2 separate regions of the Homo sapiens genome follow, and region 1 is linked to region 2. The links come from fine-mapping of genetic effects on gene expression. Tissue or cell type: whole blood. Region 2 holds a variant in brackets; the other region holds the start of a gene. All regions are shown on one strand. Distances are from middle to middle.

Region 1 (8,104 bases), 190 kb before region 2:
AGCACTTTGGGAGGCCAAAGTAGGTGGACTGCCTGAGCTCAGGAGTTCGAGACCAGCCCTTGAGATTCCGTCTCTACCATAAATATAAGAAATTAGCCGGGTGTGGTAGTGTGTGCCTGTAGTTCCAGCTACTTGGCAGGCTGAGACATGAGAATCACTTGAACCCTAAAGGTGGAGGTTGCTGTGAGCCAAGATTATGATACTTCACTCCATCCTCGGTGAAAGAGTGAGACTCTATCTCCCCAAAAAAATGAAAAATAAAAAATAAAAAGAGTAGAATCACAGAGATGAAAAGAAACTTCATTTTATAAGTTGTTCACTTTACAAATGAGAAACTGAAAACAGCAGAGCTGGTAATATTTGCCCAGGATCACAAAGCTAATTGTGGAAGACTAAAAAAGCTAGATCCTCTACCCATTTTTTTGTTCTTCGGGTAGTTCCCATTCTTGTCCTAACTCCAGAGGAAAAGAGAAGAAAGGCCCTGGAGGAAAATAGGAGGTAATCCTATTTTCTAAGTGCACGAAGACAAAGAATTGGGGAAATAACACAACTGCTGTCAGGTGATAAATACTACCAAGGAAGTAATTCCCAACATGTGTTCACCATAAATCTCAATTCCTTCTCCTGGCTTTAATATGGAAGTCAGGCAAATACAAATAACTCTTGCTTCTCCTTCCCCAAAATTCACATTAGTCAGTTCTGCTATAATGTAACATGTGCATTCCTTGAAATCACTGCACTATGCAAAATCATGCAGTAAAAACTACAGAGCATAATGGGAAAATGGGGCTAGGAGAACAACACTCAACCTAATTAAAATAGTAGTACAGTTTTAACTGGTTAACTGGTTAATTACATGATGCTGTAATAAATAGGGCATTTTAATTGAAAAACACCAGAAGTTTGCTCCTGGAAGTGAGCATCCAAAGGGTTGCAGCTTACGAGTTACTGTGAAGGTATTGGGTGAGGAGTTGGGACAGGAGATGTGGTTGGGTGGAATACATCATAACCACATGTGATGAACTAAGGGAGCTGGTCGATATTTGAAGATTGTACGTGTGTCTGCGTGCATTATGTGTATTATCACACATCTTTATTCATCTAGGTGCAGTCTTCTGTGCCTATCTAGAGGTTTCTCAGGGACAAAATTGCACATAAGCAAGCCAAAAATCTGTTATGCTTACATTGTTCTCTAATATATCAATCATGTTGAAGATTCATGTTTTCAAAACAGGTGTTATAGTAGAACTGACTATAAATTTCTTCCATTCATATAATGGCCCAAGAGATTTCCTGACTGTACCCTCCCTAACTTTACCATGAAACAACCTTAATGGTTCTCCTATTCTGACTTTCAGACAAACTGGTATGAGCACTGTCAAATGACTAATTTTAAGCTCTATTCACTAGGTATCAAGATCAACATGATTTATTTTTGTAGCTATACTTTTAAAAGACCAAAAAAGGAACTTCATTTTTAAAAATAATATAACGTTAACAATCAAGGAAAAATAATTACCATCACCAGTATCAAATTTTTTAAGTGGCACAAAATTTGAGCCAAACAAAAGGATAGCTACAAAACAGGAGATGTAACCAAAGGTTAGGTCTGCTCCATTGTTGCTCATGATTCCAGTCTTAATGAGTTAGCTGGTTCACTTTAGACTTGATGTACTTTTCAGGAGCTTCTGAAATAAAAGAAAAAATGAAACAATTGAGACGTGAATCTGTGACCAAATTGTGATTAACATATTATATTTATTGAATTTTTCAAAAGCACGCTAAGACTCCTTTTTGCAGATAGGATATTACACAACTATATATAATGTTTGTACTTCATGTTAATTTATTCTATCACCAAATATTTTTGATCACTAGCCTACAATTTAAAAAGAACAAGCCCTGAAGACAAATTTTTAGTACATTACAAAAAAAATTCTCCTGTGTAGGTTCCATCACTGCAGAAAGTTTTAGCGGATAACGCTGCTAAGCTTATTTAACAGCTTTAGCTTCTCTATGAAGAAAGGACTAAAACCACAAATAACCAAGAATTAGACATTTTTTCATAAAGTTACCATTTGGAAAAGGCCACTGAATACAATTCAGATTTTTAGTTTCCCGAGATACATGAGAAAAAAGCACCACCAAAGTAATTTTATCACAGGAGGTACAGCGTCTTTCCACAATGCCATCTTGGATTCATATTTTGCACACTGGCCCTTTGGAATAAGCCCTCTGGAATAGAAGCAGAATAATCCAGTGGTTTCTTTTTTCCTGCAAATTTAATGTTATAGTAATAACTTCTTGTATATATGTATTGAATAAAGTACACCTGAAATCACCTTTCCTTGTTATTTTATTTCACAATGACAAATATTTAAAGGTCCATGTATTGTTCCTTATGTGTTCTTGCAGAGAATATTAAATATACAACAACCTACAAAATATGTTATTTACCATTATTAAAGATAGTTTAACTGAAAACAAGGATCACTTCAAAACTGGTCAATAAACTTTAGTAAAGAAAATGTGTATTTGAAATTGTGTGGACTTTCTTAAAACAAAAACACATTGCTATTAAGAAAACATCCTCTATAGGGATGTGGTTGAGGAAGACACACTGAGGCACATTTCAACATTGACACATTAACACTATTCAATAAAAATAATTATTATTCTACTGTTAGGCTCAAAGAGAGGTTCAGCCCTGCAGTGACTTACATGGGTTATGGCTCAAGGGTCAGCTGAGGCAGGTGCTTGCTGCTAAGATAACAGAGGTGCCAAGATAACAGAGGTGCAACAGGTCAGAGATGCAGGAAGTGTCTTGAAAAGCTAACCTATGACTAAAAAGACACATGACTGGGTGATAGCTAACACATCATTTTCTCCCCATTTTAATTCACAACAAGCAAAGCAAAACAAAACCTTTATGTGTACATTGATAGAAGAGAATGTCTAACCTTCAAGAGTGGCAAATTATTTTATTGAGAAGGCTCCACAAAGGCCCTACACCTCTGAAACGGAGAGACTAATTTGACGTGCTAATTAGAGTGCATGAGGTGCATTTCGACTACTGAATAAACATCAATCAGTTATTACCTATAGATAAATGAAGTTTATTGCATGCAGCTCTTGTACATTTCAGAGCATGTGATCTTATTTCATTGTGAATTGGCAATAACTTACTGTCTTTAAAAAGGCTCTACCGCTCTCTAAAATAATGAAATTTTTGTGGAAAAGAAAAGCAGTATCACTCCATCCAGCACATTTTTCCCAATTCTTCCTGCACAAAACCTAAAAAGTCTCAAACATTATTTTAATGTTTTCTTTTCAGCGTTCGCTGATATTTTGTCAAACTATATTAATTCATTTTTATTTTATTACTTTTGTTTCATTTATTAGTAAATACTTCTCCTTTACATTTTTCCTAGTAATTTAAACTTCTACGCAGACTTTGAAAAAATTCGTATTTGGTATGTTCTGATCAATACTGCTTGCTCCACTCCAACTAAAATTTCATTTTTAGTTTCATGTTGATTTTCCCAAATCTCCAGGCAAGTACCGCCTGTCTTTGGGCTAAAATTAACAGTGCTTGAATGTATTTATTCCGAGCCTTGATTTTTCTTTTTAACCATGAGCACGTTTCTGAAAAATCATGAGACGCTCCCCTGCAAAGCGACTTGGCTTTCCTTTGAGTGGCTGTACTCACTGCGTTCCGGGCTGGCGGCTGAAGCTCCTTCCTACTCAGCGCCGGCGCGATCCGCCCACTACGTGCCAGTGTGGAGCCGGAGCCTGACTCATTCCCTCTACGTGCTGGGGGCGGCCTGGCCAGCCTTTACTTTCTGCGGGGACAATTTCCCATACACCGGCCGGGAGGAGAGGGGAGGGCTCTAGCACCCGTGACCCAGACTCCCGTTCCCAGGGTGCTCGCGAAGAGCGCCAATCCAGCCTTGACTTCCTGCTGGGACGTTTACCTCCACTTAAGGAGGGTGGAGAAAGGAGGGCTTTAGCACCGGTGACCTAGAGGCCTTCATAGGACAGCAGGTTGGGGAACGCCTTCCTTCAGTTGCTGTGCTGGACTGAATTGTCAGGTGGCTCAAAAGGAGTCGTCAAGCCCTGGGTCGGTCAACCAGGAAACTAGAAGAGTTTTGTGTATTTCAAGAGGTGATTATTCAGGAAACTCTCAGCATGTCACCCTCTCTAAGTGTCACAGAGGGAGGTATTATTTGTGCAGTTTATGGATAAAACAAAAGTCTGAGGAATTTCACACCATTGTAAAAGATTATCTCAAGTGAATTTTTCCACTTGGTATTAAGAAATTCATCTGCACCACTGACGTCATTAACATTTCTTGTGACATTACAAGATTTCACTTGTAATCACTAATTCTTTGTAGATGCACCTAAGCCATTTATCTGTACAGGCCATTTATCTGTATTTTTTTTTTTTAAGACGGAGTCTCGCTCTCGTCCAAGCTGGAGTGCAGTGGTGCAATCTCGGCTCCCTGCAACCTCCGCCTCCTGGGTTCAAGCGATTCTCCTGCCTCAGCCTCCTGAGTAGCTGGGACTACAGGCACCCACCACCACACCTGGCTAATTTTTTTGTATTTTTAGTAGAGACGGGGTTTCACCGTGTTAGCCAGGATGGTCTCGATCTCCTGACCTCAGGTGATCCGCCCGCCTCGCCCTCCCAAAGTGAGGGAGTCCTCTCAAAAAAAAAACAAAACAAAAAAAACATCTCTTCATGTGGGTTCGCATACACCAAAGGATGCAAACTTTAAGTTGGAAAGGGGAAGTGTAGGTTCTGTGCTAGTCTGAGTTCAAAGAAGCCTTCTCTGAGGAAGTGCTATTTAACCCGAGACCATCCAGTGGTTGGTAATGGGTGTAGCATTCACAGGAAGGAGAAAACACAAGGACTGTTAAAATATGACATTTCCTAGAAGGAAGTTCTGCCTTAAACATTAATCACATCCATAGACTATCATGTCAGATGAGCAGATGGGAAGGCAAAATAACATTTCATTTAAAGAATTAAAGCAGCAAAGCTTTTTCACTTAAGGAAGAGGATTAATTTAGCAGTTCAGAAAGATTTTGAAGAAATCAGTTCCCCTTTCCACACATGCACACCTAAGACACACACACATACACAAACTTGCTTCCAAAAATATAGGGCCTAAATCCAACCTAGAATTGTTTCACTTCATGGTCACAAGATCATGTGGTTTATTCTTGCTTCACTCACATGGAGAAACTGAAGCTTGTGTCAGCATTTGCTGAGAATTTCTAAAGTCTAAAAGTGAGTTGGGGGCTGAATTAGGCCTGAGAAGATTCATTAGGGATATGCTAGGCCATTGCCTTTTACATTATGCCACAGAGCAAATCCAAACATGCATGACTCTATTCTTAAACTAAAATTTTTCTTTCAAATTGTTTCGTATACATGAATGCCTAAACAGAATGGTCTGTATTGGGAGAGTCCTGGCAGACACTAGAAGATCCAGGTTCTGACTTTAGCTTCGTCTGTTAGCAATATTTCTCATGGAAACTCATTTAATCTCTTTAAACCTTAGTTTTCTTATATGTAAAATGATAATAATAAGACCTGTGCACCTCCCCCTTTTATGTGGTCAAAAGAGATATATATATATATATATATATATATATATATATATATATATATATATATATAACATTATTACTAGGACTTCTGGTTTCTGCTCTGACATTTGAAAGGTGTGAAAGTCTCCACTTCCATCATCACAACAAGAAAAAAATGAGCAAATCAAAAATCAACTACTCTTTTTAGATCTGCAGAGAATTGATGTCATAGGACATGCCACCTCTTTGCAAACTGAAGAAATAGGTGAATACGGAGAATTACAGCTTATCAGGACAGCAAAAGCCACTGGAGCCAGTAAAGGATAGGGGGGCATTTATACAGTATTTGGCCTATTGCTGAAGGCTGAGTGTGGACTAACTTGAGAGTTGAAAACTCAGAGACAGTGGGAGTCATTCATATGGGAGCATCCACACATTAATGAGTTTTACTTTCAGAAGACAGGACAAAAGTTTCCTCTTTTTTCTGGCATGTGGGAGGAAAACAATAACTATTTGAAATATACTCAGAAACAAAAGCCTGTCCTCAAGGTAAACTTTACCCCAGAGCTTTATCTGAATTAGAGAAAAGGCAACTAGACAGTTTGAACACCTTCTACACTTTCTTTCTCACATAAGGAGAAAAACAAAAGAAGAAACCCTTATGAAGTTCACAGCTCAGGGATTCTGGACAACTAGAAAACAGAGTTTTAGATGTTGGCAAAGATACAGAGAAAAGGGAATGCGTATATACTGTTAATGACAATGTAAACTAGTAAAACCCCTACGGAAAACAGTATGGGGATTTCTCAAATAACTGAAAATAGAAGTACCATTTGGCCCAGCAATCCCACTATTGGGTATCTACTTGAAGGAAAAGAAATTGTTATAATCAATGACACTGGCACTCATATATTTATTGGGGTACTATTCACAATTAGGAATCATCCTAAGTGTCCATCAGTAGTTGATTGGATAAAGAAGATGTGGTATATATAAACTATGGAATATTACGCAGCCATAAAAAGGAGTGAAATCATGTCCTTTGCAGCAACATGAATGGAGCTAGAGGCCATTATCCTAAGTGAAATAACTCAGACAGAAAATCAAGTACTGCATGTTCTCACTTATAAGTGGGAGCTAAACAATGGGTACACATGGACATAAAGGTAAAATAATAGATGCTAGGGACTCCAAAACAGGGAAACGTGGGAGAGGAGAGCAGATTGAAAATTATCTATTGGCTGTAATGTTTACTATTTGGGTGATGGGTTTACTAGAAGCCCAAACCTCACCATTACAGAATCTATCCATGTAGGAAACCTGCACATGTGCCTCCTGAATCTAAAATTGTTTAAAAAGAAATAAGAATTTAAAAATAGAGATTTTATCATAACATTATAGAATGTATCAACTCTCCAATATCTTACGACCACATAAATAGTGTTTTGGTATAATAACTGTGGATCACAACTAGAGAGAGTTGCAAGACACAGACTCTGCTTAAAAATGAGTCTCTAGGAAAACCCAAAGACAACAAATAGGGGAGACAAAAAGAAAGATATTAGAGAAAATAGAAGCCTCTGATACTTACAGCTACAACAACCATTAAGCACAGTCTAACTTCTGGCCCAATACACATAAAAACTAAAGGTCTACTTATCTTGTTTTCTATTATCTGATACATCATGCCTCACTTTCAATGAACAATTATAAGGCATGCTAAAAGGCAAGAAAAAACACAGCTCTGAAATGTCAAAGCAAGCCTCAGAACCAGATTCAGATATGGCAGGGATTTGGGAATTATGAGACTGGAAATTTAAAATATGCTATGACTAATATGCTAAGAGATCAACTGGGAAAAGTGCAAGAACGAATAAACAGAAAGATGAAAACTCAAAGAATCAAAAGGAAATGTTAGAGAACAAAAAATACTACAATAGAAAAGAGAATCACTTTTGATAGCTGCAAAAGAATCAGTGAGCTTGAAGGTATGTCAGTTGAAACTTCCCAAACTTAAATGGAAACAGAAAACAGAATAGGAAAAAGAAACACAATTTCCAAGAACTGTATGAAAATTACAAAAGGCATAAAATACAGGTAATAGCAATACCAGAAGGAAAAGAAAGAAAGCAGCAGAAGATACATAAATAATAGTTATCTAGGTATCTAATAATGGTGGACAACTTTCTAAAATTAATAACAGACATCAAACCACAGATCCAGGAAGATCAGATAACACCAAGCAAGATAAATTTTAAAAAAACTACATGTAGGCATATTGTATACAAATTGTGGAAAATAAAGAGAAAATATTGAAAGGAGTCAGAGGAAAAACTATCACCTTACTTATAAGGAACAAGGATGAGAATTAATCAGACTTCTCAGACACCATGCAAGGAAAAAGAGAGTAGAGTGAAATATTTAGAGTGTTGAAAGAAAAATCCACCAACCTATAATTTGTTTCTTATTCTTAATTGATCGCATAGATAACTTCAAAATAATAATAT
Region 2 (8,111 bases):
CAAGAAAACTTGAATGATAATAAAGAGATACAAGGGAGAAAGTGTTACTTTATGTATTATGCCCTAACATTTAAAATATTTTTAGTAACCTTAATTTCATTTTTTAAATATAAAAATAATTAACACTCATAGTAGGAAATATAGAAAAGTGAAAAACCACCATACACTATCTCATTTTCAAGATGAGAATATTTTATTACTATTCTTTTTCTATATGTAAGATTCATAGAATTATAATATAGTGATTAAAATAAAATTGTATGCTACTTATTGCATACATTAGTATAATATAAACATATCTCACAGTAAAATAGTTATTTCTAAACCTTATTTTCAAAAGTAGCTCCCCATCCCATCTTTTTAGGAAAAGAGGATTATCTTTCACATTATTCCTTGATACCAAAGTTATCCAGAGTCTGATATTTATCTAAGCCAGCCTGGTGGTTTGGGAGTTCTTTAACATGTGCAGAATGATGGTCTGGAAAAACCTAAGTTATTGTTCAACAGCTGAATAAACTATCAATATCAAGAGAGCAGTGCAAATCTCTCTAAATAATTCTTTTAAAGAGGAAGCCATCTCAATGGAAATGGGTGAATATTTGTCCTTTGTAATATTATGATGCGAATTTCCAATTACTGAACCCAATGTCAGCTCCTGAACAAGTGAGATAAATGCCTTAGCTCATAGGTACTTTTGACTCCCAAGACATGTCACTCTAAAACCTCATGTTCATTTATTTCACCAACATTTAATACCACAGCACATGATTTATTTGGTATGATTCCAGTGCATTGGCAGGGAAAATAAATAATAGTTCTCTGCATATAATTATCTAGGAGACTAGGTCTTTGACAGGGGAATTACCCATTTAAAGATGGATGGCAAATGCTGCTAGTCATTGGAGAATGTCTGAAAGCCTTTTCTTGTTCCGAAATGAGTCTTTAAAGAAGGCATCTGTAGAACAAATGATTATAGAGGTCACATAGTTCAAATGACAAATTCTGCTAACAAAGCAAGGCTCCTGTGTATTACTGGGCACTTTTGCTTCTTAGGTCATGGAAAGAGAAAAATAAAGAGATAGCTAGGGAAGGAAAAGCAATTGTTCCAAAAACCACCACTATCACCAGCACCACCACCAATGATAACAATAAAATCACCAAAACAATTGCAACAAAAAGTAGATAAAGTTGAAGAGAGAGAGCAAAAGAGCAAAAAGGGAAGTGAAATGCAGAAAAAAGTACATATGGTAAGAATTATGGAGAAATTCTGCCAGTGGTACTAACTGAATAAACTGTCGAATTGATCTAATATATGGTTCAGAGGGCTGACAGCTGAATTTCAGGTATCTTCATTAGCAACTGTGCACCTTTAAAATGCGGCATATCTTTATTTTCCTGTCTTGAAATAAAACAATAGAATATCAAGAAACTCTATTTACCTATAAGGCCCTAATTAGAATGAAATGATGGGTATTAGATAATGTTCTAGACATGATTTCAAATATAAAGACCCATTATTTTTATTTATTTTATGATGAACATATTTTTGTGATATTCTCTGATCTAATTTCCATCCTTTATATCTCTGTATGATTGGTATATTTATCATAAATTTAAAAAACAGAGCTGTTTACCAATATCAAGTGAAAAGTCTCATAATAGTGAACAATTACTAACTGATTACAATACTAACCCAAGAGGTCAATGTGAACTTTCTCATATAATTCTCATAAATTTATTTGAGTTATGTGGCATTGTTATACTTTTTTTACAGCTGGGGAAACTGAGTAACGAAGCAGTTAAGTAACTTGCTCAATAGAGGAGCCATGACTTATAACCCAGGCAGTCTGATTCTGGAAGCTGTGCTCTTAACCACGACACGAAGTAAAATAAAAGTGAAAGAAAAAAAAAGCCAGGAATAAATGAGGTTTCTTCAGGCATACTTTATGATTTTTACTTAATATTTTCAACATTGATTTAACTAATATTTACCAAGCACCTTTTAGATTCGTCGTACCATGCTGCACTGTATTATTGTGATTGATGAATGATATGTGTGGTGCCTGCCACATGGAATATATAATCGAGAGAGATAATGAAATATAAATAATTTGTCAATTTTTCATTTATTGCAAACACAGATCTGGGTGTTCTGGGGCCATTTTAATTTTTACAATATAATTATTACTAAAGGTTAAATAGCTTAGAATATATATGTATACATATACATATGTTAGTACATATACACAATATATGTACATATACAATATATACATATATTGTGTATATGTTAGTACATATACACAATATATGTACATATACAATATATACATATATTGTGTATATGTTAGTACATATACACAATATATGTACATATACAATATATACATATACGCAATATATGTACATATACAATATATACATATATTGGGTTTGTGAGTCTTCCATTCTAATGTTAACTTTCCTAAAAATGTTGACTGTGTTATTAGGCAAGTTGTAACTACTTTTTACATCAAGCATCCCATTCACCAAATGATGCTAATGCCTACTACAAATGCAGGAAAAAATGATGACATAATTTTTGGGTAGAGTTCTCAGCTCTGTGGTAGGGCAAGAAAAACAAAAACCTTCATTGTCCACCTTGAATAATTACTATACAGTGGAGACTAATCCTTGATCTCAAGTTAATAACGGGAAGCTATCTGAAGGTGCTTGCTTTGAAAGATTACAGGCTTAAGCAGATATAGGGGGATCATAAATAGCAGACATATTGTGAAATAAAATTTTACTCCAGGAGTACTAAGAATGTTTTTATAAGGATGTTGAAATAATGGGTTGAAACCATGGAGACTGAGTTAGGCATTGGATGAGCTGTTTCCACATTGTGCCAGAGGTGAAAAGATGAAGGTGAAGAGGGAAGCTATTGAGCTGTGAGAAGGTTATAAGTAAACTAAAAAGTGGACTGAAGGATAGAGTAACTGTTTCTGGAAGGAGTTGCCTAAGCCAAAAACCTTTTCCTGGCATACCCGTAGAACATCTTGTTTTTATGCTGAAAAGAGAGTCCACATTAATGTAGTTTAGTTGTGTTTGCATCCTTGTGATTTTCTGAAGCTCATAATAAGTGTGCTAGGAATAGCTTAATTGTTGTAGTTTACATCATAAAGTAATTACCACCATCATGGTGGTCAGTAGAGATCTTCTAAGGATAAAATATGTGCTAGTGTTTTTTTCACTTTGCATCATTTTTTCTTTCTTTTGGCTATGATTTCTTGGGAATAATACAGAGACAACAAATGATGTCTTAAATTCATAGTTCTTACTCTTCTGCCAACTTTTTTTTCATATAACTATCCCCTGGTTGGAATAGGATTTTCTACCTTTGCAATATGTGTATTAAAAACCGAATTTGTGGCCGGGTGCAGTGGCTCATGCCTGTAATCCCAGCACTTTGGGAGGCTGAGGCAGGCAGATCACTTGAAGTCAGGAATTCGAGACCAGCCTGGTCAACATGGTGAAACCCCGTCTGTAATAAAAATACAAAAATTGGCCGGGCATGGTGTCATGTGCCTGTAATCCCAACTACTTGGGAAGCTGAGGCAGGAGAATAACTTGTAACTGGGAGGTGGAGGTTGCAGTGAGCTGAGATGGTGCCACTACACTCCAGCCTGGGTGACAAGAGTGAGACTCTGTCTCAAACACAAACAAACAGACAAACAAATAAATGGAATTTGTAATTGTCCAAAACATACAAACAAACAAATAAATGGAATTTGTAATTGTCCACAACAAAAATTGATGGTAGAGAATATAACCAGTTGTTATCTACTTGTAAATAGATGGTTACTTTTTTGTTCGTTCATAACATAGAAATAATGATATTATTAAAAA[TA/A]TCTCTTTTTTTTACTGGATATGGGCAAAGTAGTAGTCATGTATATCAGTGTGTGAGTCATGGGCAGATAGCATCAGCATTACCCACAAACCAGCCTTTTTCCAGCCCTACTGAATTAGAAACTGTTGGTAGAGTTCAGGAATAGATGGTTTAACTAGTTTCTCAGGTGGTCTTTATGAAAACGAAAGTTTGAAAAGTCCTAGTTCATGTCACTTTCATTCACATTCTCTTGGCCAGAACCCAATCATCTGACCCTAATTTCATGCAAGGCTGTGAGAGAAGCCAGTTTCCAGAGCAACTCTACCCTTCGGTACACAGAAATACCCAACTCGACCTAGTGTTTGGCAAACAACTAGCTATCTCTAGCTAGCATTAATCTTTCAGAAGAAAAGTTATGTCACAAGAAAATAAGTTTTAGAAGGTACTGGAAATGTTGTTTAATCAATAGTCAACCCAATTTTATTTATTTGTATTGCTTTATATTTAAAATATAGTGCTAATTCTCTTTTATATTTGTGGCACTTTGAAAAAAATTCAACTAAAAGCCTTGATAGAAAAAAAAGTTTCAATGAAAAGGATGTGTTCTGAGCAGAGCCAAATTTCTATTTATTTCTGCCAATTGCTAACCAAGTGGCATTGGGAAAGTTGAACCTGTTTTAAGAAATTCAAAGTAAAATAAAAGCTTTAACATTGAGGATACTTGAGGTTTGACAGTTTTATGTTTTCTAAGTTAATATTTTGGGATTATAATTAAATCCAATGATTAAATGAATATGTATTTGATTATTTTATGCTTTGCAAAGGTAGTTACTGGGGATTAAAACTTAGTCTAGTGATAGGAGAACTAGATATGTAAATAAATAAAAACAGTACATATGTGATTTTATTGTCTTTTATAAGTTTCATATGTTTCAGCTTTAAAAGCAAATCTATTAAAATAGTTAATTCACAATTTAGGACTATTTCTAGTGGTATTATGAGACAGACCATGCAGAGTTTTATTTTTTTATTTTTTTATTTTTGAGACAGTCTTGCTCTGTCACCCAGGCTGGAGTGCAGTGGCATAATCTTGGCTCACTGCAACCTCCTCATCCTGGGTTCAAGCAATTCTTCTGCCTCAGCCTCCCAAGTAACTTGGGATTACAGGCATATGCCACCACACCTGGCTAATTTTCGTTTTTTTTTTAGTAGTGATGGAGTTTCACCGTGTTGGCCAGGCTCGTCTCGAACTCCTGACCTCGAGTGATGTGCCTGCTTTGGCCTCCCAAAGTGCTGTGATTACAGGCATGAGCCATTGCACCTGGTCCCATATAGCATTTATTAATTATATGTTTTAAGTTTTTCCTCATTACTGTATAAACAATAACTATTACTGTATTCTCAGTTCCTGGAACTGTATATACTTAGTAGAATAGCATGCACTATATATTTGTTAAATTAATGAAACAAAATATTAAACCCCATGGTTTAGTTATGACTCAGAGTATCTTCCTTACCATTCCCTAGTACATTGTGGCCAACAATTTTCATGCCTTATGTATCTATCAAGCAATGTGATCTATGATAATCACCAGTGCAACTAAAGAAAAATAAAAAGAGCTTAGTGTTGTTATCTCTGAAAAATGAGTCAAGTGGTCACTCTGGTCTATGTGGATTTTTAAAGCTTTGTGCTGGTAATAAAGAAGTCCAATTTGTAAAGGAGAAAAAAACACATAGCAAAAGGAGAAGACTTCTGTTTGAGCTTGTGAATAGGCAAGAGAAATAAAATAGATTTAAATAGGAAAATTATATAGCTCTTCAATTAAAACAATAAAAGATGTTAGAGTGTCTTTTAAAAGAAATAAATGCTTAGGATAAATTCAGGTTTTTAATTGTTGTTTTTATTGTCACTTATCATTAACTTCCTTGTCAACCCAACCCCAGTGGCACTTTCTAGAGATCTTTGGTTTATTTCTTAGGAGTGGGCTGTCTTCTTTCTCTGTTTCAAAGCAACTGCTGTCTATTTCCTCTCCTAGGCTCTAAAAATGAATCACAAAATGTGTCATTTGTTCAAAGCAAAGATAGCCTCTTCTATATTCAGCAGGACCAAATCAGGTAATATACATGAACAGGCCTCATATAACTTGTTTTTGCTGTTGTTTTTAGAATCTGGAGAACAACTACCCAACTGCAGAGTAGGGGTGTTGCTCCTGCTCTGTGCGTGTTTGTGTTTTAAGAGACTGAGTGAAATCACCCATTTTAAAGGACAGATCAGAGACATTTAAACAAAATTGAATTTGGAGTTTGGATGAAAAATTTACTCCATTTTCTTACAAAAACCAAACTAAATCAAACCATGTTTTCATTTTGTTCACCATCCATTGAGAACATTATGGATTTTTTCTCTCTGTTTTTTAAATTTTATTATCGTATATTAAAATTTGGTTTTAAAGTTTGTTTGTTTTTTTTTGTTTGTTTGTTTTCAGATGAGTTTGGGCGCATTCAGGGCAGTATGACCATAGCCTGGTTTTTTTATTTTCAGAAACAATGCCTTTAGTCCTTTAATTTCCTCTCTACTTGCTCATCTGACATGTGTTCATTGCTCTCATTCTCCTGCTTCTCTAAATAATATTAAGTAACAGAAAATGTGCTATTTAATAAAATTAAAATGAAGTTTATTAACATATTTTTCAGAATACTATATATATTCTTAATATTTGTTTGTGTCCAGAGAATTTTTACTTTAATGTAATATAAACCTTAGGACTAATTGAATTGGAAGTATATTCTAAAGGCTACTTACTCCACCATTCTATGTTAACTCACAAACTATATAACAGAAAAAAATCATTTTTTTCTTTATGATAAATCTTAGATTAATTTTGACAAGCTCAGCATGACAATCAAACTTGCTGTACAACTTTGATTTATGTGAAAACACACACACACACATACCATCCATCAACTCTTAAAAATTTCTTCTGATTGATTGGCTAGAGAATGAAAGATTTACAGAAATATATTAGACAAAAGAACAAGCTATGAAGCTAAAATACTAATTACTAATGACAGAAGGGCAATAACATTTATTGGGAAAAGTATCTCTTCCCCTGAAGCATCTTAAAGGTTGTCTATTGATGGCTTCAGTGCTTTTCAAGGGTTAAACAAGACAATCAAATTAAATTCATATTTGCATATATGTAAGTATGGTTGAACAGTATAAATAATGCCACCTTTATGTCTAATAAATTATACTACATGAAAAAGATGGACTGCTCATCATCAACATATTCTAATTAAATCTCTTCTGTGAACTGAAGTGTGCAGTTCACAGTATGCATGAAAGCTTTACAGGCTTTCAGTTTCTTAAAGCATTTGAGAAGGATCATAAAACTGTAAACAAACAGAGTCCTCTCTAAATAACCAACTTAAGTCTCCTATCATAATTAAAATAATTTTCTAAAAGCACATGATCCAAATTGAGCCAAGAATTAATTTAAAAAATAAACAGAAAATAAAATAATATTAAATATGAAACTGAAACTATCTACAAAATCACCTAATAAACAGAAATATGTTATATGATGACAGTGAAGTTTACATATTCTTCCCACTTTGCTAGAGATCAGTGCTTGTAGGGGAAGAAAATTTGAGAATTATCAGGATGATATTTCTTCTTATTTCACCAGGTACATGTTAACATCTCAGTTTTCCTAAACTAAATGTATGCATTTTTCATTATAAAGTACCTTTACTCACTTAAAGCTTCCAGTTAGCAGAAAGTTCATTTCTATGTGGCTTTGGGATTTGTACTCTTTATTTGGGCTAAAACCTTGTGAAGCAAAGACAGCTGAGGGGAAAGGACAAGAAGCTACATGGAATTCTTCACCTTAAGGCTGGAGTCAGAGAGGAAGGGAGTGCCAGCGACCCCAGACGTGTGTCAAGGTGTTCCCCTGCCAGAGACTTGGAGCCAACTCCAGCCACTACCTGGTGAGATACTGTACTGCCACTGCAACAGAACCATCTCCAGGATCCACTTCACTTCTTTACAACAGCTTGCTCTGTGACAAACCCAGTGCCTAATCCTACCTCCCTGCACAAAGAAGATGATTCAGGTGCACACTCTTTGCCAAAAACTTTAATATTGACAGTAGTCTTTATGTTGTGTTTCAGTCCCACTGATAAGTGCAGGAGGCAACTTGAGAAGAACTGATTGTGTATAAACTAGAGCCTTGGTAAATAT

What was found. PIP is the estimated chance that this variant, and not a neighbour inherited with it, causes the effect.
Region 1: it holds the start of TMEM144, and the variant in region 2 is fine-mapped to the expression of TMEM144 in whole blood (INTERVAL, PIP above 0.99).

What each region holds. Positions count from the first base shown.
Region 1 is chr4:158,206,192-158,214,295 of GRCh38, reverse strand. It overlaps TMEM144 (transmembrane protein 144), which reads right to left and starts at 3,810. Exons shown (of 13, transcript NM_018342.5): 1 at 3,710-3,810; 2 at 2,722-2,843; 3 at 1,520-1,688. The coding sequence starts at 1,628. RefSeq lists enhancers at 3,878-3,967, 3,868-4,422.
Region 2 is chr4:158,011,398-158,019,508 of GRCh38, reverse strand. All of the region lies in intron 1 of LOC105377509 (a long non-coding RNA gene), which reads left to right. Among named protein-coding and RNA genes, the nearest start is that of GASK1B-AS1, 160 kb to the left of the region's middle. RefSeq lists a silencer at 3,636-3,792. The variant TA/A (reference allele first, on the strand shown) is at 3,889.